3 separate regions of the Homo sapiens genome follow, and regions 1 and 3 are each linked to region 2. Evidence: fine-mapped expression QTL. A gene starts in region 2. Each other region holds a variant in brackets. All regions are shown on one strand. Distances are between the middles of the regions. Region 1 overlaps CHLSN (cholesin). Region 2 holds the start of CHLSN (cholesin). Region 3 overlaps CHLSN (cholesin).

Evidence for each region. PIP is the estimated chance that this variant, and not a neighbour inherited with it, causes the effect.
Region 1: its variant is fine-mapped to the expression of CHLSN in whole blood (TOPMed, PIP above 0.99).
Region 3: its variant is fine-mapped to the expression of CHLSN in whole blood (TOPMed, PIP above 0.99).

Annotation. Positions count from the first base shown.
Region 1 is chr7:995,279-1,002,268 of GRCh38, forward strand. It overlaps CHLSN (cholesin), which reads right to left. Exons shown (of 5, transcript NM_001318252.2): 4 at 5,192-5,273; 5 at 1,728-2,526. The coding sequence ends at 2,347. Among named protein-coding and RNA genes, the nearest start is that of CYP2W1, 16 kb to the left of the region's middle. RefSeq lists enhancers at 414-463, 1,960-2,500, 3,957-4,546. The variant C/T (reference allele first, on the strand shown) is at 3,713.
Region 2 is chr7:1,134,260-1,140,800 of GRCh38, forward strand. It overlaps CHLSN (cholesin), which reads right to left and starts at 3,988. Exons shown (of 5, transcript NM_001318252.2): 1 at 3,056-3,988. RefSeq lists silencers at 3,548-3,597, 3,608-4,057, 4,258-4,397 and an enhancer at 4,118-4,217.
Region 3 is chr7:1,023,564-1,030,553 of GRCh38, forward strand. All of the region lies in intron 2 of CHLSN (cholesin), which reads right to left. Among named protein-coding and RNA genes, the nearest start is that of MIR339, 4.0 kb to the left of the region's middle. RefSeq lists enhancers at 1-131, 3,982-4,716, 4,717-5,450 and silencers at 4,194-4,403, 4,434-5,213. The variant G/C (reference allele first, on the strand shown) is at 3,216.

The DNA of each region.
Region 1 (6,990 bases), 140 kb before region 2:
CATCTTTCGCCAGGGAGCCCTGAGGAGCTTGGCACCTTACGATCCACAGAGGTGGGAACCCCTGACAGGAGAGCACTCCCCAGCCGGTGTCAGGGGAGCATCTGTGCTGTCGAAGGGAGGCCCAGGTCTTCAAGACCTTTTCCCACTAATGGTCGGTGAGGACTCAGCAGTACCCACCCCATTTCCCTTTCTGACTCGGCTGCTGGGAAGCTCAGAGCTCTGGTTCCGGATCCATCAGCCCTGCCTTCTGGAGGCTGCTGCCCCTTCTTTGCACTTTGCGGGTCTCCCTCTGCTGTTTGTTTAAGGTGCCTCACAGCATAGGGGCCACTGAGCACCCTGACTGCTGGGCTGAACACGGACCCTTCCCAGCAGCTTCTCTGCAAAGCTGTGCTGCCAGCAGCCGGATCGCAGGCACCGCCTGGCAGATCTGAAGGTTCGTGCTGTGCAACGTGCCTTCCTGTTTGTGAGTTCACCTGACCGACACCAGGAGGGGCTGGACTCCTCGCCTGCCGCCGGCAAGGCCCGCCCTGGGCCAGTGGGGTGCACACAGCAGGCCCTGTGTCGTGGGTGGTCAGAATTTTGGCCACAACAGTTGGGGGACGGGGCTGGATGCTGGCCAAGGAAGAGCAAACAGCCTCATCTCCTTCCCACAGCTTGGTGGGTGCAGAGAGGACCTGGGGACACGGTCCTTAGGGTCTCCTCCGGCCCCGAGTCTCGATGTCCACATAGAGATGGCCTGAGTGGTCAGCCAGACCTGCCCAGACCACATCTTAGCCCAGCCCTGGGTGTCTTCAGGGAGCTAAGGAGGAAGTCACAGTAGACGTCCGTGGGTCACAGTGAGGCCAGTCACCGCTCTGAGGTGCAGGCCCCGAGGGCCACGGCTGAGGAGGCCCAGCCAGGCCAGCAGTGGCCACGGGAAGCCCCAGGCCCTCCCCACAACAACAGCCCGGAGCCTGTGACTCTGCTCTCACAGGGTGAGGCCGGCCGTGCTCCCGCCTCCCGGCTTGCATGCAGCTCTGTGCGTTGGTGGCAGCCAAGGCAGGCAGCCTGACCTCAGCCTCAGGAGCTCTGTTGGGGGGCGGGGCACCCAAGGGGGCACTCAGGGCCTGAGCCAGCGTCCCAAGGCTGCCAGGTGGCGGCTGCAGCTACTTTTCTGCTCCACCGTCAGTTGGGGGAGCACTGAGACGGCAGCACAAACCCCCAACCTGGGCTGGGCAGGAGGCGGCCCCGGGGCAGCAGCACCTGGGTGTCTGCTCTGTGGAGGCCCAGACCGGAGCCACTGGCCTCAGCCCTCCCCGGGGCCCATCCTGGAACAGACTTGGCCTCACAGTGGGGCACGGACCTCCTCGCCATGGCCACCCGGCCCTCCCCGGCAGCTGCCCAGAGCTCTGCGGTCACCACGGCCTTCCCGGTGCCCCGCGGCACCTCACATCACTTGGGGGCAGGGACCACGTGCTGCTGGGAACAGGAAGTGTGTGGCTTGATTCTGTGCGGCCTAAGTGTGTTTCCTGGCAGGGTCAGTCACTGCCAGCGCTGGGAAACGGCCGGCCTGAACGCAAGCGATCAGCCAGCACCCACTGCCAGGAACGCCACACACAGAGCGCCCCCAATGCCATCCTGGGGTGGCCACCAAGGGCGGGGTCTCAGCCTGGCGTGCGCTGGCATGGGGGACACGAATTCCGCAGTCCACAGGCAGGGGACGCACCGCACAGAGCAGGACCCACGGCTGCTGCTGGGTCGGGTTTTATTTCAAATGCAGCCACAGAGGCGGTTTCTGCACAGGTACGTGATCCGACTCCACAAGCTCCCACCAGGGGCTCCCCATGACCCGCAATGACGCTGTGTGGGGTCAAAGGAAAACAGGCCACAGCCAGGCCCCTCGATGGACGCAGGCAGGGGACCAGGAATGCGGCCCACGCAGGGGGATCGGGAATCAGGCGGAAGGTGCAGGTTTGCAGCTGGCGGGAGGAGCCAGCATGCCCCAATCTCTAAAATATTCCCGGTAGAAAAATAGACATTTCCCTCCAAAGCAGATTCCTGGGGCTGGAGGGTCCCTCCAAGGCCAGGGGTCCGGGTGATTCCAGAGCATCCACGCTCTGCGCTGAAGGCACTGAACCTGCCATCACTGTCACAGCCGTCACCGGCCAAGGAGGGTCTGGAGGAGGGAAGGGGCCCTTGCGAGGCTCTGGTGCTGGTGATCCCGGCCCCCACCACCGGAGGAGCTGAAAGCCCTTGCTCAGCCGCTGCCCTGCTGGTGAACCCGGCCCCCACCGCCGGAGGAGCTGCACCCTGTGTGGTCTGAGGCAGCCCTGCACTGGGCAGCGGCCCCGCCCCGCGCTGAACCCACTAGGAGAGCAGCTGCAGCACCTGTCGGATGCGCTGGGCCCTCCCCGGCAGGGGGGGATCAGAGCCCTCCTCATCCAGCTCCCGCATCAGGGCTTCCGCCTTCTGCACCGTCAGCTCTCGGGCCCGGCCCTGCAGCCCCTCCAGGTAGGCCAGCAGGGTGGAGAAGTGCTCATCGGGAACCTGGACGGGAAAGAGATCGAGTTGGTCAGGGGCGGGGCAGGGAGGGGCCGCTGAACAGCAGGAGACAAGACGCTGCAGCCAAGGACACCCGGGCCTCAGGCTTCCGTCCTCCCACTGCGGCCCGAGGGTGTGGGCGGCCTGGCCACAGACCCTGCCCCAGACACTGGAAGAAGAAATGCCTGTTTAGAGGCAGACAAAACACTCAATTAACCTGGGTAAAACAGAAGCCATGTGGGGAGAACATTTCACAAACATCGTAAAAATCCTCAGAAAAACGAGAAAATACGACACAAATTAAACAGGGGTAGGCGGTGATGAAAGGTGCATTCAGAACAAAAAGCCAAGTACGCGCCGGCACTTGGCACGCTCGCCTTTCTGCTCAGGGCGGCAGTGGCCAGGTGGCATCTCTTGGTGGCCTGACCCTTGTCTGCTGGTGGTGGGGGCACCTCTGCACAGGCTCACCAGTCACCTGACAATCTGCTCTGCAGGCACGTTTCCTCAGGTCCCTGTGGCAGCGGCTTTCAACACTGGGCTCTTTTTATTATTGAGTTAGCAGAGTTCTAATTCCATGTGGGACTTGCAAACGTCTCCCATTCTGTAGCAACCATTTCACTTTCCAGCTAGTTCTGTATGCAGTGCAAAGTCTTAGATTCTTTTTTTTTTTTTTTTTTTTTTTGAGCCGGTCTTGCTCTGTTGTCCAGGCTGCAGTGCAGTGGCACGATCTCCACCTCCCAGGTTCAAGTAATTCTCCTGCCTCAGCCTCCCAAGTAGCTGGGATTATAGGCAAGCATTACCACACCTAGCTAATTTTTGTATTTTTAGTAGAGACGGGGTTTTTGCCATGTTGGCCAGGCTGGTCTCGAACTCTTGACCTCAAGTGATCCACCCGCCTCAGACTCCCAAAGTGCTGGGATTACAGGCGTGAGCCACCACGCCCGGCTACACAGTCTTAGATCCTGATGAAGGCACTTTCTCGACTTTTTCCTTTGTCGCTTGTGCTTCTAGAGTCACATTTAAGAAACTGTTGCCTCACCCAAGGGCACGAAATGGACTCTTAGGCTTTCATCTAAGAGTTTTGGTTTTAGCTTTTAAATTTAAGTCTCTGATCCATTTTGAGTTAATTTTTGCATATGGTTTGAAGCTGGGGGCTGCGTGCATTAAGTATCGGCATGTTCGTAAATATGTA[C/T]GGTTACATATGAAATAAAAATGTATAAGTAAAATGCACATTTGTGTGTTTGTAAATATGTTTAATTACAATAGTGTAAGATAACTTTGCGTGTGTGTGTGTGTGTATACACACATATAAATGGCTAACCAAGGATTTGCCTAACCAAGGATTATTTTTCTGTATAAAAAGTTTTGTATAAAGTTTACTTTTGGTAATAGTAACATATAAATAAAACCACGTAAACTTTGGTTAAAACAAAACAAAACGTGGAAACCCAGTTGTCCCTGGCTCTGTTAAGAAGAGGTTTCCTCCACATGGAACAGGCTTGGCCCGCATGCTGGAATCAGCTGCGCCGGGCGTGAGGGTTTCCAGGCTTCCCAGGCTGTTCCAGTCAATTCTACTTCCACCCTTGTGCCTGCCCCAGTGTCGCGATTACCGGAGCTTGCAATAGGGCTTACAATCGGCTTGCAATAGGGCTTGCAATGTGTATGTCCTCTAACTCTGAGGAGGGAGAGTGGCTTGAGCCCAGGAGGTCGAGGCTGCAGTGAACTGTGGTCGTGTCACTGCACTCCAGCCTGGGCGGGGCCCTGTCTCAAAAAACGCCCACAAAAAAACAAAAACAACAAAATAATGAAAGCAAGTGGCTGCAGGCTATGCCTGGAATGTCCCAGGGCTGTGAGTGGGGCTGGTGGGCCTGCCCCGCTCTGAGAGTCTGCAAACACAGGCACGGCAGGAGAAAACCGCCCCCTGCCCCCAGCGCGCACGCAAAGCCTGGCCTCTAGTAACGTGGGCGCAGGAGAGCCAGCGAGGCAGGAGGCACTGCCCACCGGATGCAGCTCAGCAGAACCGTGGGCTCCTCCAGCCTCACAGGACATGGGCAGCTCCAGCCCGCCGCCCAGCAGCCGGGTTTAGTTCAGAATTCTGTCTCGTTTCATCCTGTGAAACTCTATCTCACATCCTGCCCCTGAAAAGGGCAGCTGCCCACACGTACATGTGTAGACACACATCACGCGCACACACGTGTAGACACACGTCATGCACACACGCACGTGTAGACACACGTCACACGCACACGTGCAGGTGGCCTCCCTAAGGTTACCCCGTGTTGGTTTCTGCCCTGAAGGCCGGCGGCAGGGCTCCTGGAGGAGGCAACGCTGCTCATCTCTTAGAACAAAGGCACCGGGAGACCTGCCCTGCAGTGGGGCCCTGAGGGCGGCCCCTTCAGACTGTGGCTTCTGCTGTCAGGGCCCCAGTGTGCACAGGAGACGTGCCTGCCCCGCCGTGCACAGACCTCAGCCCCCAGGAGACGTGCCTGCCCCGCCGTGCACAGACCTCAGCCCCCGGGAGACGTGCCTGCCCCGCCGTGCACACACCTCAGCCCCCGGGAGACGTGCCTGCCCCGCCGTGCACACACCTCAGCCCCCGGGGGGACGTGCCTGCCCCGCCGTGCACAGACCTCAGCCCCCAGGAGACGTGCCTGCCCCGCCGTGCACACACCTTGTCACTGTCATACATGTGCAGCAGGAGCCACGTCTGCCTCGTCTTCTGAAACCTCCAGTTCTTGTGCTTTTGGGCCCATCTAGGGAAAGAAAGACAAACATCTCAGGGTGCTGGGCAAAAGACTCCCGGGCAGCTGTCTGCCCTGAGAGATCGGGGACGCCTCATCTTAGGAGAGGGAGCCCCACCAGGTACTACACACCAAGGCCTCATGTGAAGAGGGTTTTTGGAGCCCCTCCCCTGCCCGAGGCGAGGAGCCGCAACCCCACGCCCTGCTGCCGCCTGACCAGGAAGCATGTGGACGCCACTCTTACCTTGGCCACCCCGGGGCTCACCACTGACCCCAAGTCCCCGTGGGCTCCCCCACCCCATGGGTCACACGGATTTTACAGGGGGGGAAGGATGAAGTGAGTTTCTCTGGGAGGAAAGGGAGCGATGTAATTGATGATGTATTTTCTACATGAAAATGGGAAGACTGTAAGGAACAATACCCTGAGTCCCAGGCCCTCACAACAAGGGGCCAGTGGGCCTGGGGACGAGCAGCTCCCGGCTGCTAGAGGGGCCGCTCCCCAGGGCCACAACCACCCCGCCCCCGTCCCGCTCCTGCACTAGGGCCTGTGGACATCAGGCAGCTGCGGATGGAGCGAAGCTGGCGCTGTGGGTAGGGCAGGGCCAGGCAGGGTTTACTCCAGAGACCTCCTCCCAGATACGTGTTTCCAGGGCCAGGCAGGGCAGCCGAGCCCAGAAGCCTCCATCAGTGTGCAAGCCCAGGTCTGAAGACTGTAGGCTCAGCACGGGGGAGGGCCCTGTGCCTGTTGTGAGCGCTGCCCAGCTTGCCTGACCCCACTGCCATGTGGGTGAGTGGAGTCCTGTGGGTGTGGAGCCCTGTGGGTGGGGAGTCCTGTGGGTGAGTGGAGTCCTGTGGGTGGGGAGTCCTGTGGGTGAGTGGAGTCCTGTGGGTGGGGATTCCTGTGGGTGAGTGGAGTCCTGTGGGTGGGGAGTCCTGTGGGTGAGTGGAGTCCTGCGGGTGAGTGGAGTCCTGTGGGTGAGTGGAATCCTGTGGGTGGGGAGTCCTGTGGGTGAGTGGAGCCCTGTGGGTGGGGAGTCCTGTGGGTGAGTGGAGTCCTGCGGGTGGGGGGTCCTGCCGGTGGGGAGTCCTGCGGGTGGGGAGTCCTGTGGGTGAGTGGAGTCCTGTGGGTGAGTGGAGTCCTGCGGGTGGGGAGTCCTGCGGGTGGGGAGTCCTGTGGGTTAGTGGAGTCCTGTGGGTGGGGAGTCCTGTGGGTGAGTGGAGTCCTGCGGGTGAGTGGAGTCCTGTGGGTGGGGAGTCCTGTGGGTAGGGAGTCCTGTGGGTGTGGAGCCCTGTGGGTGGGGAGTCCTGTGGGTGAGTGGAGTCCTGTGGGTGGGGAGTCCTGTGGGTGAGTGGAGTCCTGTGGGTGGGGAGTCCTGCGGGTGGGGAGTCCTGCGGGTGGGGAGTCCTGTGGGTGAGTGGAGTCCTGTGGGTGAGTGGAGTCCTGTGGGTGGGGAGTCCTGTGGGTGAGTGGAGTCCTGTGGGTGGGGAGTCCTGTGGGTTAGTGGAGTCCTGCGGGTGGGGAGTCCTGTGGGTGGGGAGTCCTCTGGGTGAGTGGAGTCCTGTGGGTGGGAAGTCCTGTGGGTGAGTGGAGCCCTGTGGGTGAGTGGAGTCCTGTGGGTGAGTGGAGTCCTGCAGGTGGGGAGTCCTGTGGGTGGGGAGTCCTGTGGGTGAGTGGAGTCCTGCGGGTGAGTGGAGTCCTGCGGGTGAGTGGAGTCCTGTGGGTGAGTGG
Region 2 (6,541 bases):
GAGAGACTGTCTCTTAAAAGGGTGGGGGGCAAGGCTGAGCGCAGTGGCTCACACCTGTAATACCAGCACTTTGGGAGGCCGAGGTGGGCAGATCACCTGAAGTCAGGAGTTCGAGACTAGGCTGGCCAATATGGTGAAACCCCATCTCTACTAAAAATACAAAAATTAGCCAGGTGTGGTGGCGTGTGCCTGTAGTCCCAGCTACTCGGGAGGCTGAGGCAGGAGAATCACTTGAAACTATGGAGATTACAGTGAGCCGAGATCGCGCCACTGCACTCCAGCATGGGTAACAGAGTGACACTGTGTCTCTAAATAAATAAATAAATAGGCCGGGTGCGGTGGCTCACGCCTATAATCCCAGCACTTTGGGAGGCCGAGACAGGCAGATCACAAGGTCAGGAGATCGAGACCATCCTGGCTAACATGGTGAAACCCCGTCTCTACTAAAAAATACAAAAAATTAGCTGGGCATAGTGGCGGGTGCCTGTAGTCCCAGCTACTCAGCTACTCGGGAGGCTGAGGCAGGAGAATGATGTGAACCTGGGAGGCGGAGCTTGCAGTGAGCCGAGATCGCACCACTGCACTCCAGCCTGGGCTACAGAGTGAGACTCCTTCTCAAAAATAAATAAATAAATAAATACATAAAGAGTCATCTACCTGCCCTGTCTCTGACTCCTTTCCTTCCCCCATCCCATCAGGCTTTTGCCCCAAACACCCTACCACAATGACACCCACGTGGCTAAATCCCATTGCCAACTCTCAGTATGCAACTTATTTGACCTAACAGCGTTGGACTGTTGATCCTTCCTTCTCTCTTGACAGGCATTTTTCACTTGGCATCCAGCACAGACAGCAGAACTTCTGCTTTTGCTCCCACCTCTTAATCGCCGTGTCCTTGAACACTGAAGGACCCAGGCTTAGTGCTCAGCCTCCTCACTCCCTCGTGATCCCATTCAGTCATGTGGCTTCAAATACCAACTAGACGCTGATGACTTTGTTTCCTCTCTTTACAGTCTCTTATTAACCCTCTCCTTCAACTACACGCCAACTCAACTGTGTATATATATAGCTATAGTTGTATGTATATACATATAGTTATATATATATACATGGTCATATATGTGTACCTAGACATATATACACATATATATACTTGAACTCCTGACCTCTGTTTACACTGTTTATACACATATATCTACATGTGTGTATATATATGTATGTGTATGGCCGGGCACGGTGGCTCACGCCTGTAATCCCAGCACTTTGGGAGGCCGAGGCGGGGAGATCACTTGAGGTCAGGAGTTTGAGACCAGCCTGGCTAACATGGTGAAACCCCATCTTTACTGAAAACACAAAAATTAGCTGGGTGTGCTGGCACCTGCCTGTAAACCCAGCTACTCGGGAGGCTGAGGCAGGAGAATCGTTTGAATACGAGGTGGAGGTTGCAGTGAGCCGAGATCGCGCCACTGCACTCCAGCCTGGACAACAGAGTGAGACTCCACCTCAAAAAGAAATATATATATATATATATATACACAATTTATTTATTTATTTATATAAAATAAATATATAAATATATTTACATAAATATGTATTTATATAAATATATAAAAATATATATGAATATATAAATATATAAGTATATATAAAAATATATATAAGTATATATAAATATATAAGTATATATAAATATATATAAATATATATAAGTATATATAAATATATAAGCATATATAAATATATATATAAAATATATATGTATATATAAATATATGTATAAATATATAAGTATATATAAATATATATAAATATAAGTATATATAAATTTATATAAATGTGTATATAAATATATATACATAAATATATATAAATATATACATAAATATATAAATATATATACATAAATATGTATAAATATACATAATTATAAATATATACACAAATATATAAATATATATAAACATATATAAATATATAAAATATATATAAATATATATAAACATATATAAATATATAAAATATATATAAATATATATAAACATATATAAATATATATAAACATAAATATATAAATATATAAACATATAAATATATATAAACATATATATAAATATATATAAATATATAAACATATATATAAATATATATAAACATATATATAAATATATATAAACATATATATAAATATATATAAACATATATAAACATATATAAATATATAAACATATATAAACATATAAATATATATAAACATATATAAATATATATAAACATATATATGAACATATATAAACATATATAAACATATAAACATAAACATATATAAACATATATAAACATATATAAATATATATAAATATATAAAAATAAATATATATATGCGGATGTGTGTATAAACTGTGTATATATATAACTATATATATAACCATATATATGTACTTATATATATCATCTACACATATATCATCTCAAGCTTAAGAATTCGTAATCAATACCCCTGATCACCCTCCACAAACCTGAGCTTCCTAGTGTTCATCCTCTCCATAAACATCCATCTGATGAGGTTCACATAGTAGCTCAAGCTTAAAACCTTGGTCCATCCATAAATCCTCTCTTTCTCACATACTCGTCCAACCCACCACAAACTCCTGTTGGTTTACCACTGAAATACACCCAGAATGTGACTCCCTTAAGATCCCATAGGTACCCAGTCCAAGCCACCACCTCTCACGATGGCTTTTAAACTCCTAAATCAGATGGTGTGTCACCTCCACTCAAAAAACTTCCCAAGCTGTCCCCTTCCACTTGGAGGGAAAGTCAAGGTCCTTGCCACTTGGTAAGGTCCACACGACTGCCCTGGCCCCTCCTCGCATCTCTGGGAACTCACCTCCTCTTTCTCTCTCTGTTCCCAAATTGGCTGCAGCCACACTGGGCTCCCTGCTGTTTCCCCTGCACCTGCTGTTTCCTCGACCTGGAATGTTCTGGTGCCTCACTCCTCCTCCTGCTTCCTTTCCATTCTCAAAACCCCTGTTCTCATCTTCTCCATGGCACTTACCATCACCTGCTCTGTGCACCTTGTTCATCTGTCTCTCCCCTCCAGAATGGAAGTTCACTAGATCACAGACTTGTCTCCACTTGTTGACAGCTGTAGCCCAATGCCCCGAACAGTGCAGGAGGAACCCAATGAACGTTTTTTAAAAATGAATGAATGAATGACGGAAGGAAGGAAACGGAAAGCATGCTTATGATGGAAAGTGAGGCCAAGCGCGTTGGCTCACTCCTGTAATCCCAGCACTTTGGGAGGCCGAGGCAGGAGGATCCATCGCTTGAGCCCAAGAATTCGAGACCAGCCTGGGTAACATGGTGAGACCCCATTTCTACAAAAAACATTTTTAAAAATTATCCGGGTGTGGTGGCGCGCGCATGTGGTCCCAGCTACTTGGGAGGATGAGGCGGGAGGACGGCTTGAGCCCAGGAGGTGGAGGCTGCAGTGAGCTATGATCACGCCATTGCACTCCAGCCTGGGTGGCACAGCGAGACACTGCCTCAAAAATTGAAAAAGAGAAAGTGGGAGCTGAAAGCCTCGGAGGGCAATCAGGGCGTCTTCAGAGAAAGACAATGAAACCAGAGCCACTGCAAGCCCTGACGGCCTGAAACCTAGGAGCCAGCTGAGTCCCTTCCACTCGCCCGCGCTGAGTTAACCCAGAGGCGGGTGCGGGTGTCGGAGCCCGCGCCGGGACGCACCGGCCGCACCGGCCGCACCAGCCTCCCCAGCACCGCGGACCCCAGGGCCGCCGCCCGGTCGCGCCGCGCCGGGCCTCCGCGCACCCACGTGGAGGGGGCGGAGCCCCGCGGGAGCCCGCCCCGGGGCTCTGGGTCTCCTGGCGCCCTGACCCGCCGGCCACCCCGCCGCCGCCCCACGCGCCTACCTGCGCCCACCTGCGCCCACGTCGCCCACCTAAGCGTGAACAGCTGCGTCGCGGACGCCGCCTTCCGGCAGGGACCCGCGCCCCAGGTAAGCGTTAGTCCCGCCTTCAGGAGTGCGGAGCCTCCCATTGGACGAGGTCTGCGTCCGTCTCTCCGCCGGCTAATGGCAAGCGGCGGCAGCACGGGGGGCGGTTCCAGGACCGGGCGCGGGCTACTGACGCCATCTCTAGAGGCCTAGAGTTGCTTGGAGAGGAGCTGGTTGCCAAGGCAACCCGCCCTGCCCAGAACAAGTGCAGATGACTAGGTTTGGGCCCCGCAGGGCTTGGGGGTCTGGGGTGCAAGCTGCCCCGGCCGGGCTGGCGTCCCGGGGTGGGGCCTCCGCCGAGGGTCCAGGGTATGGAGCTCGGCTCGGAGTCGAAATGGATGAGCTACGGCTATTGGGATCAACAGGGCTAGGACTTAAACTTCGTGCTGAATTTAAAAAATCAGGATAGGTGCTAAAAAATACACAGGGTGGGTAGTGTTATAATAATGCTTGTGTCCGGGAGCGGTGACTCACGCCTGTGATCCCAGCATTTTGGGAGGCCCAGGCGGGCGGATCGCTTGAGCTCAGGAGTTCGAGACCCGCCTGGCCAACATGACGAAACCCCGTAACCCCGTCTCTGCTAAAAATACAAAAATTAGCCAGGCGTGGTGGCAGGTGCCTGTAATCCCAGCTACTCGGGAGGCTGAGGCAGGAAAATCGTTTAAGCCCGGGAGGTGGAGGTTGCAGTGAGCCGAGATCGTGCCACTGCACTCCAGCCTGGGCGACAGAATGAGACTCTGTTTTAAAAAATAAAAAATAAATTAAAAAAATAAAAATTAGCCGGGTATGGTGGCACGTGCCTGTAGTTCCTGATACTCTGGACGCTGAGGTGGGAGGATCGCTGGAGCCTGGGAGATGGAGGCTGCAGTGAGCTATGATCAAGGCACTGCACTCCAGCCTGGGCAACAGAGCCAGACCCCGTCTAAAAAAAAAAAAGAAAAAAAAGCATGCTTTCAAGTCACCCAGTAAGTTAAGTGCTTGGCAGCCGTATCAAGTATGATGTACGTTGCCTCAGGAATCCAAAGGTGACAAGCAAAGAAGGTGCACTCTTCCTTACTGGTAGAAGATTGTATTTGGTTCCTTTTTCTGCATAACAAATTAACCCAACATTTAGCAGCCTAAAAGAACATTTATTTTTTCATGGTATCCGCGGTCAGGAAAGTGGGCGTGGCTAAGCTCTGTGCCTTTGCCTCAAGGGTTCACCAAGTTGTGGTCAAGGTGTCCCCCCAGGGTTGTGGTTTCATCGGAAAGCTTATCTGGAATGATCCACTCCCAAGCTCACACACACGGATATTGTAAGGACTCAGTCCTCCAAGGTCATTAGAGAAGGGCCTCAGCCTTGCTGGCTGCTGCCCAAAGGCCACCCTCAGTTCCTTGGTACATGGGCCTTACCACAAGGAAGCTCACAACACTGCAGCTGGCTTGCCTTAGACGGTGCAAGCACACACAAGAGGAGGCACACACAAGACGCACATCACAGTCTCCTTGCACCCTAATCTCAGAAGTGACTTCCCTAGGCTTTTGCCATATTCTGTTCATTAGAAGTCGGCCGGGTGCGGTGGCTCACACCTGTAATCCCAGCACTTTGGGAGGCTGAGGTGGATGGATCACTTGAAGTCAGGAGTTCAACACCAGCCTGGCCAACGTGGCAAAACTCCATCTCTACTAAAAATACAAAAATTAGCCAGGCATGGTGGCATGTACCTATAATCCCAGCTACTCAGGAGGCTGAGGCATCAGAACCTATTGAACCCGGGAGGCAGAGGTTGCAATGAGCTGAGACCGCGCCACTGCACTCCAGCCTGGGCGACAGAGCAAGACTCCAGCTCAAAAAAAAAAAAAAAAAAAAAGTGAATCATGGCCAGGTGCAGTGACTCAGGCCTGTAATCCCAGCTCTTTGGGAGGCTGAGTCAGGAGGATGGATGGACACCAGGAGTTCAAGACCAGCCTGGGCAAACAGTAAGACCTCATGTCTACAAAAATAAAAATAGAAAATTAGCTGGGTGTGGTGGTGCACGCATATAGTCCCAGCTACTTAGGAGGCTGAGGTGGAAGGATTGCTTGAGCCTGGAAGATGGAGGCTGCAGTGAACTATGATCACACCACTGCACTCCAGCCTGGGTGAAAAAAAAAAAGGAAAAAAGGAAAATAATTTTTTTTCATTTTTATTTTTGGAAATTGATATGGTTTGGCTGTGTCCCCACCCAAATCTCATCTTGAATTGTATCTCCCATAATTCCCATGCATTGTGGGAGGGACCTGGTGGGACATAATTGAATCATGGGGGCAGTTTCCCCCATACTGTTCTCTTGGTAGTGAGTAAGTCTCATGAGATCTGATGGTTTGATAAGGGGAAACCCCTTTTGCTTGGTTCTCATTTTCTCTCATCTGTTGCCATGTAAGATGTGCCTTTTGCCTTCCGCCAAGACTGAGAGGCCTCCCCAGCCATGTGGAACTGTGAGTCCATTCAACTTCTTTTTATTTATAAATTACCAGTCTCAGGTATGTCTGAATAGCAGTGTGAATACT
Region 3 (6,990 bases), 110 kb before region 2:
AACTCCTTCCCACTGGGCCCTGGAGAACATGACGAAGACTGTGGGGGCCTCCTCCCAGGAAACACACACACACACACACACACACACACACACACACACACACACACACACACACCAGCAACGCGCCCAGACCCCAATCCCTGGCAGCCCAACTCCTCGTTCTACAGAGAAGGGGTGAGGATCTCCAGGGGTGACTGCTCACATCTCGGCACATGTAGAAGGCAGGGCTGGAGCAGCGGCCCCTGCAGCCCAGGCCAGGGGACTGGAGGCCCTTCCACAGCAGCCCTTTCCTTTTGATACACGGTCTTGCTCTGTGGCCCAGGCTGGACTGCAGCGGCACCATCACAGTTTACTGCAGCCTCGACCTCCTGGGCTCAAGCAATCCTCCCACCTCAGCCTCCCAAGCAACCAGGACTATAGGCATGTGCCACCATGCCTGGCCAGTTTTTAAATTTTTTATAGAGATAGGACCAAGGCTGCTCTCACACTCCTGAGCTAAAGTGATCCTCCTTGCCGGCCTCCCAAAGTGCTGGGATTATAGGCATGAGTTTTCAAACTCCTGGGCCACAGCGATCCTTCCGGCCAGCCTCAAAGTGCTGGGATTATAGGTGTGAGCCCACGGTGCACAGCCCCCACTTTCTTCCTAAAAACCCTGCAGCTTGGCTGACAGTGGGACCTGCCTCCCTACTCCCGCCTGCAGGAGCTCAGAAGCCTCAGCTCAAGAGGAGCCCTTGCCAGAGACGTGGGACCAGGAATGGGCCCCACAGAGCCCTGCCCGTGGGCTTCCTAAACAGCCTGAGTTCAGCTGCACACACCAACGATGTAGGCGGGTTGCAATAAACAGCAAGAAACGGACCCATGGGACAGGAGAGACGCAGGAGCCCCAGGGGACAAGAGAGACGCAGAAGCCCCAGGTGCCTTTGGTGGCCAGTGCTGAATTTCGCAAGCAACATTAGAAACTTTTTATTTCTGCTTTTCTCTTAACCCAAGGGTGAAAATGGAAACCTGTGGTGTGGGGCAGTCTGCTGAACGCTAGGATGAGGGCGGGGAACAAGAGCCACCCTCCCCGCTGCCACCTGGCCCACAAGAGCCTTCCCAGGGGCTCTCCAGTTTCAGCCCCTCCTTGCCGAGCCAGACAGCGCTGCTGGCCTGGACGGGAGGGACACCCAGGCTGACTGAGTGGGGGAGCACTTTTTATAAAGATCAGATCAGGTTTCTGAAAACAAAAAGCCCCCAGATCCTGCGAGCGGCTATTTAGACTTGATGCACACTCCACCATTTCACAGGTATCCATTCCCCAGCGTCACACATGCCCATCCCCAGCTGGAGCACACTCTTCAGTGTGGAGGACAGAAGGAGCAGGCAGAAGACGACCCCGGGGCGCTGGGGGAGCAGGTGCGGGCTCCCACATACCTGCTCTATTCTGGTTGGAGGTGTCACAAGGGAAGGCGTGGAGATGCTGCCAATGGGGACATGCGGCAAATGCGCCCCCTTCGCCCCACACCTGTCAGCAGCTAGCAACAACTCAGTCCTGACTGCTGGAGACCCAGCCCCAGGGGCAGGCAGGTTGGGATCCGCTGCTCAGGAGGCAGCTCTGGGCCAGGGTGGAGGCCGGAGAAGCCAGGCACCTCCCCGCAGAGCTCTGCAGAGGCCAGTCTGCTAACGGCTTCATCACTGGAGTGGCGGCTGCTAAGAGCAAAGCCTGTGCTTGGTACCTCAGGGACCTAAATAAGAACCACTCCCTGTTCCAAGGATCCCAAGTGGGGGGAGGACGAGAAGCAGCTGAGCCTATAGGGCACAGGAAACTCACTGGGGTGTGGGTGCTGGGGACTTGGGTTGGGTGCTGTACTGAGCAAGCCTGTTGTGGGGGGACACTGCTGGCGGTGGGTGACGAGGTGCACAAGTCAGGTCAGGGAGGGGGACTCTGCCCTGGCACCACTGGGGCACAGGACACTGGCTCAGGTGTCAGCTGAGGACCCCCCAGTGTAGGCGAGGGGCTCACAGCCGCTGAGGCCTGTGGACACAGCTCCGTGTATTCTGAGGTCGCAGAGCACAAGAGGTTGGGGGTGTGATACGGACCGACCTCGCCCATCCAGGAGGAATGGGGCTGGTAACAGAGCTTTGTAACCCCTCAGCACCGGTAGAGGTTGCGTGGCTCCCCAGTGGAGCTGAGGGCTGGCGTTTCTTGCTCTGTATTTCCCTGCGCTCTGGAAACTCCTGCATCACCAGCCTTGGGCCCTTCACTGCCTCCCCTGGGCCTCCAGAGGCAGGCTGGGGTCCTCTCCTTTCTCAGCCTCTGTGGCCAGTGTCTGGCACAGGACAGACACCCACCAGGACGCTGCCTGGGACGGAGGGCTCCCTTCTGCCTCCGGCCAGGTGGGCCCCGCAGCAGCTCAAGCTTCAGCTGCAGTGGAGGGAAGAGTGAACTGCTGGGCAGAAGCAGAAGCAGGCCTCCTGGAACTCGTGACCCCAGATCCCAGAGGCCCTGCCCCCTTGCCACCTCCCAGAATGTTGGCAGGGCCTCTGGGTGATTTTCATCCACATGCAGGGGTGTCACATAGGCCCCTCGGCTCCAGCTCCCCACTGAACGGCAGCTTTGTATCCACAGGTAGGGCTGGGCGGCTCCAATTTGAACTTAGGCATATGGACGCTGTCTAACGATTCACGACACTCCTCGTTTCTTTCGCTACTATTGGACCAGTTGAGGGTGGAGCCCAGCTGCACCTGGCATTGCTGAAGAGCCCTCGCAGAGCCAGCGCTCCAGCTGCTGGGCGCGCAACAGCTGTCCCGGGAGGCAAGGGTTCGCACGGCAGTGCTTCTGTGTCGACAGAGGCTGTGCTGCAGCTCCCTGCCAGGCCCGTGTCCTTCCTAGCTGTGAGAACACTAACCTGCCTGGGCTTCACCTGTGGAAGCCACCGCTAACTAGCAGTCGGAGGCGGCGTTGTTTCTAAGACAGGCAGGCAGCTCCGGCAGGAGCAGCCGCTAAGCACAAGGACGGCCAACCACACAAAGCCTGCTTCTCAACCACTCGCAGGAAATCGGCTCACAGTTGCTCCCCATTCTTCAATGCTGATCCTGCCACTTTACTGAAAATCACATTATTAACGTTTAAAAAACGTATGGGAACCATGCAAAGACATCCACGCCCCTCAGTTGCTGCCGCTCCAGCACCTGGCTCCGAAGTCTGTGCAGAAGGCGAGGCTCCCGTAGTGCTC[G/C]AGAGGGCCTTGCACGCTCCCCGTGGAGGGAACAAAGCTACGTGGATTTTCCAGCGCGCCGCCCACTTCACCAGGCAGCCTCTGGGCTTCATCCTGCTCGCGTGACAGGTGTGCTCTGTGCTGTCAGGAAACTGCAGGGCTTTGAGTATAAACTGAAAACAGCAAAACTATGTTCTCATCTCAGAGGCCCCTTCCTTCTCACCCCGAGGTCACCTGGGCCCGGAGACACAGCACCCGCCGTGCAGGAGCCTGGAAGATGTTTGAGCAACGAGAAAAAAACCAGAACATGTTACCGCCTCTAAAATGAGGAAATGGCAGGATCAAAATTAAATGTCCGTGAAGTGTATCATCATGTCAATTTTGTTAGTTGTTACACATAGTTTAAAACACTCACATCTGGGAACTAAGTACGGGTTAGGTTTTCTCACTTTGCCACAACTCCTCAGTGAACACAACGAATTCATAAAAATCACTGTCAATTCGGTGAGTTACTCATAAGCAAAGGACTCTGAAGCAACGGTCACCATTCCCGCCGTCTCTGCAGCCGTGAGGCCCAGCAGCAGGCTAGGCAGCCCGGTTCGCGTGTCCGTGCGGACGCCTGGTCCACGGCCCCCGGCTGTGCGCGCAGCAGCTGAGGACGCTCCGAGGACACAGCGCAGGACCAGCACGGGGCCGCCACCTGCCCGGGCCACCGCCTCCTCAGAAGATAAAAGACCTACTCCAAGCACCTCTGCGCTCTCCAACCCAAACCCGGCTGAGCCCCGACGCAGCAGCGGCAGAGCCTCTTGAAGGAGCTGCCGGCCTGCTCCGCCGTCCTCAGGAAGGCTCCCGAGTGAAGCTATCCCAATTGTTTTCATCATGAGTCTTTGCTTTAGTTGACACAGCTTCGCACTAGCACCCACCGCGCCAGTGGGGGCCGCCTTGCCTCAGGCAAGAAAGCCCCTGGCTTCCGAGCGCCCGACGGGGTCCTCTACCCCGGCACAGGGAGGGGCGAGGCGGCGCTGCGGGCGACACAGGCCCTCTCAAGGGTCACGCGGCGGCCGACGACTCCAGCCCACCCAGGGTCCTCAGAGCTCGTGTCTCCCCCGGGGGCTGCTGCATCGCGGCTGGGGGCCCGGTCCGCCCCCACAGCGCAGGGGAGCCTGGCCGGTTGCGGGGCCGCTCGAGGGCTCGCAGTGCCTGCAGGGCCTGGACCCCCACCCTGCCACCCGCGGCCCGGCCCTGCGCCCCCAGGAGAGTAAGTGGGAGGAGGGCGCGGGACCGTCCAGGGCCTGCTCGGGGACCGGCGCGCAGCGGAGCCCCGAGAAGCGCGGCTCGGCCGGCCCGGGGTCTGCAGGGCGGAGCGGGGCCCGCAGCAGCGTCTGGACGCCACGGCCTCCCACGGGAGCGCCCACCTGTCGCCGCGGGGCGGGGCTGGGGCAGGGCCCCTCCCATCCCCTCCCTGCAGCCCGAATGCGGGCCCTGGCCCCGCGCACTGACCTCTGACCCGGCTGTCAGGTCCCGCGGGCACGGACGGCGCCGGGGCAGGGATGCGCCCGCAGTGCGCACCGCCCGGCCCGCGCCTCCAGCAGCCTCAGCGCCTCCACACTGCGCATGCCCGGCCGGCCCGGCGCGGCTGGAACCAGATCCAGCCGGCTGGACCGTGACGCCAGCGCGCCTGCGGGGACTGGACCTCGGCGCGGGGGTGGGAGAGCCGGGGCGGGGCCTCGGCGCTGAGAAGGCGGGGGTGGACCCTGCTGCAGCCCCCACTGCTCCTCCGACGAGGCTCTCTGGCCGCCCGGGTCTCCGGTCCACCTGCGCGAACTGCGGGGAGGGCGCACCCCCGCCCGCGCAGGGCCCCTGCCAGCTGCACGTACTTGCCTCTGACCGCCCCCACCCAGCCCCTATCGTCCCCCTACTTCCCTCATCTCCCCCATCTGCCTCCATTATCCTCTCATCTCCCCCAATCTGCCCCCATAGACCCATCTCCCCCAGTCTGTCCCCATCTCCCCTAGTCTGCCGCCATCTGTCCCTATCGCTCCCCCAATCTGACTCCATGGCCCCCATCTCCTCCAGTCTACCCCCATCTTCCCAGTCTGCCATCTCCCCAATCTGCCCCATCTCTCCCCAGTCTGACTCCATGTCCCCCCATCTCCCCCAGTCTGCCCCCATCTCCCCTGCCCAGGCCCTGCAGGCAGAGGCCTAGCCCTCCCATGGCATCCACGTGTCCAGCAAAGGGGAGGTGCTCAATACCGGCTGGCTGAATACGTGGATGAGTCACGCAGCCTTTTCCTCACCACACAGAGGGCGTCTAGATCTCTTCTGGCTTGTGAGTTCCCTGCCCTGGGACTAAGACTGCAGATCAGTTTTTTTGCTTGTTTGTTTTTGGAGATAGGGTCTTGCTCTGTCGCCCAGGCCAGAGTGCAGTGGCACCATTGTAGCTCACTGCAGCCTTAACTTCCTGGGCTCAAGTGATTTTCCCACCTTGGCCTTCCGAGTAGCTGGGACCACAGGAGTGCACCACTGTGTCCAGCTAATTTTTAAATTTTTTGTAGAGACAGGGTCTCACTACGTTGCCCAGGCTGTTCACGAACTCCTGGGCCCAAGTGATCTTCCTGCCTCGGCCTCCCAAAGTACGGGGATTACAGGTGCGCCACCATGCCCAGCCTAATTTTTAATTTTTGGAGAGATGGGGTCTCACTATGTTGCCTGGCATAGGAGGCTGGAACTCCTGGACTCATGTGATTCTCCTGCCTTGGCCTCCTAAAGCACTGACTGGGATTACAAGCATGCACCACGGTGCCTGCCTTGCAGATCAATTTTATGGTGCGAGGGAGCCGCACTGGCCACCCAGAGCACAGTGAGCCCGGAGGCTGGGCCGGTTCCAGGGCGAGGAGAGGCTTAGACTCCCTCTCAAGGCGTCAGGGTCCAGGACACACTGAGCTCTGGTCGCGGGGCCCTGCTCTGGAGGCCACCCCTGCCTGGGGAGATGGTGTGGGCACCCCAGTCCCCCGCTGAATAAGGATCTGCAAGGCCGGAGTCAGGCCTGGGGCTGGCTGTTTTCCTCCTAGCTGTTTCACCATCTCCAGGCCTGTTCCCATGCAGAGGCCTGCTCTGTGGTGGCAGCGGGGCAGGCAAGGGTGGACTGGAGGCCTCCTGGAGCTGGTGGACACGAGGAGGCCAGGAAGGGATGTCCTGCCCACTGCCTGCAGCGGCTATGCAGCAGTGCTTCCGATTTAGTGTCTCTGCCACTGGTGTCCGCACCCCGCTTTCAGAGAAGGAAGTGTGTGCTCAGTCACCGGTTTCATGGGAGGGACTCAATTCTGGGCCTTCTGAGCCCCAGTGGCCTTGTGTGCTGACTCCCCAGTGTGTCCCCAGCATGAATGCGCCAGCCCACACAGTCACCTGCCTCCATGAACGCGCCAACTCCGCGCATCCACCTGTCTTCCCGAACGCAACGACCCACGCATCCACCCACCTCCATAAACGCGCCAATCCTGCTCATATGCCGTCTTCACCAACGCACCAACTCGCACAGCCACCCGCCTCCACACCTGAGCCCGGGGACCAGGTTTCTTCTCCCCGTAGTTCTGTGCTGGTGGCTCTGGGCTGCTTTGGGAGACAAGGACAAGAGCAGGAGCGGGAGAAGCTGGCCTGGCAGTGGGGTGCAGTCCCCCGGGCTGGGCCACTAGCCCCACAGGGATGGGGACGTGGTGCCGGCTGAGGACCCAGGGGCTTCACTCCACTCCATCTCACGCTTCCAGCTACCCTGCTCTTTGCACTTCACAGAGGGGGA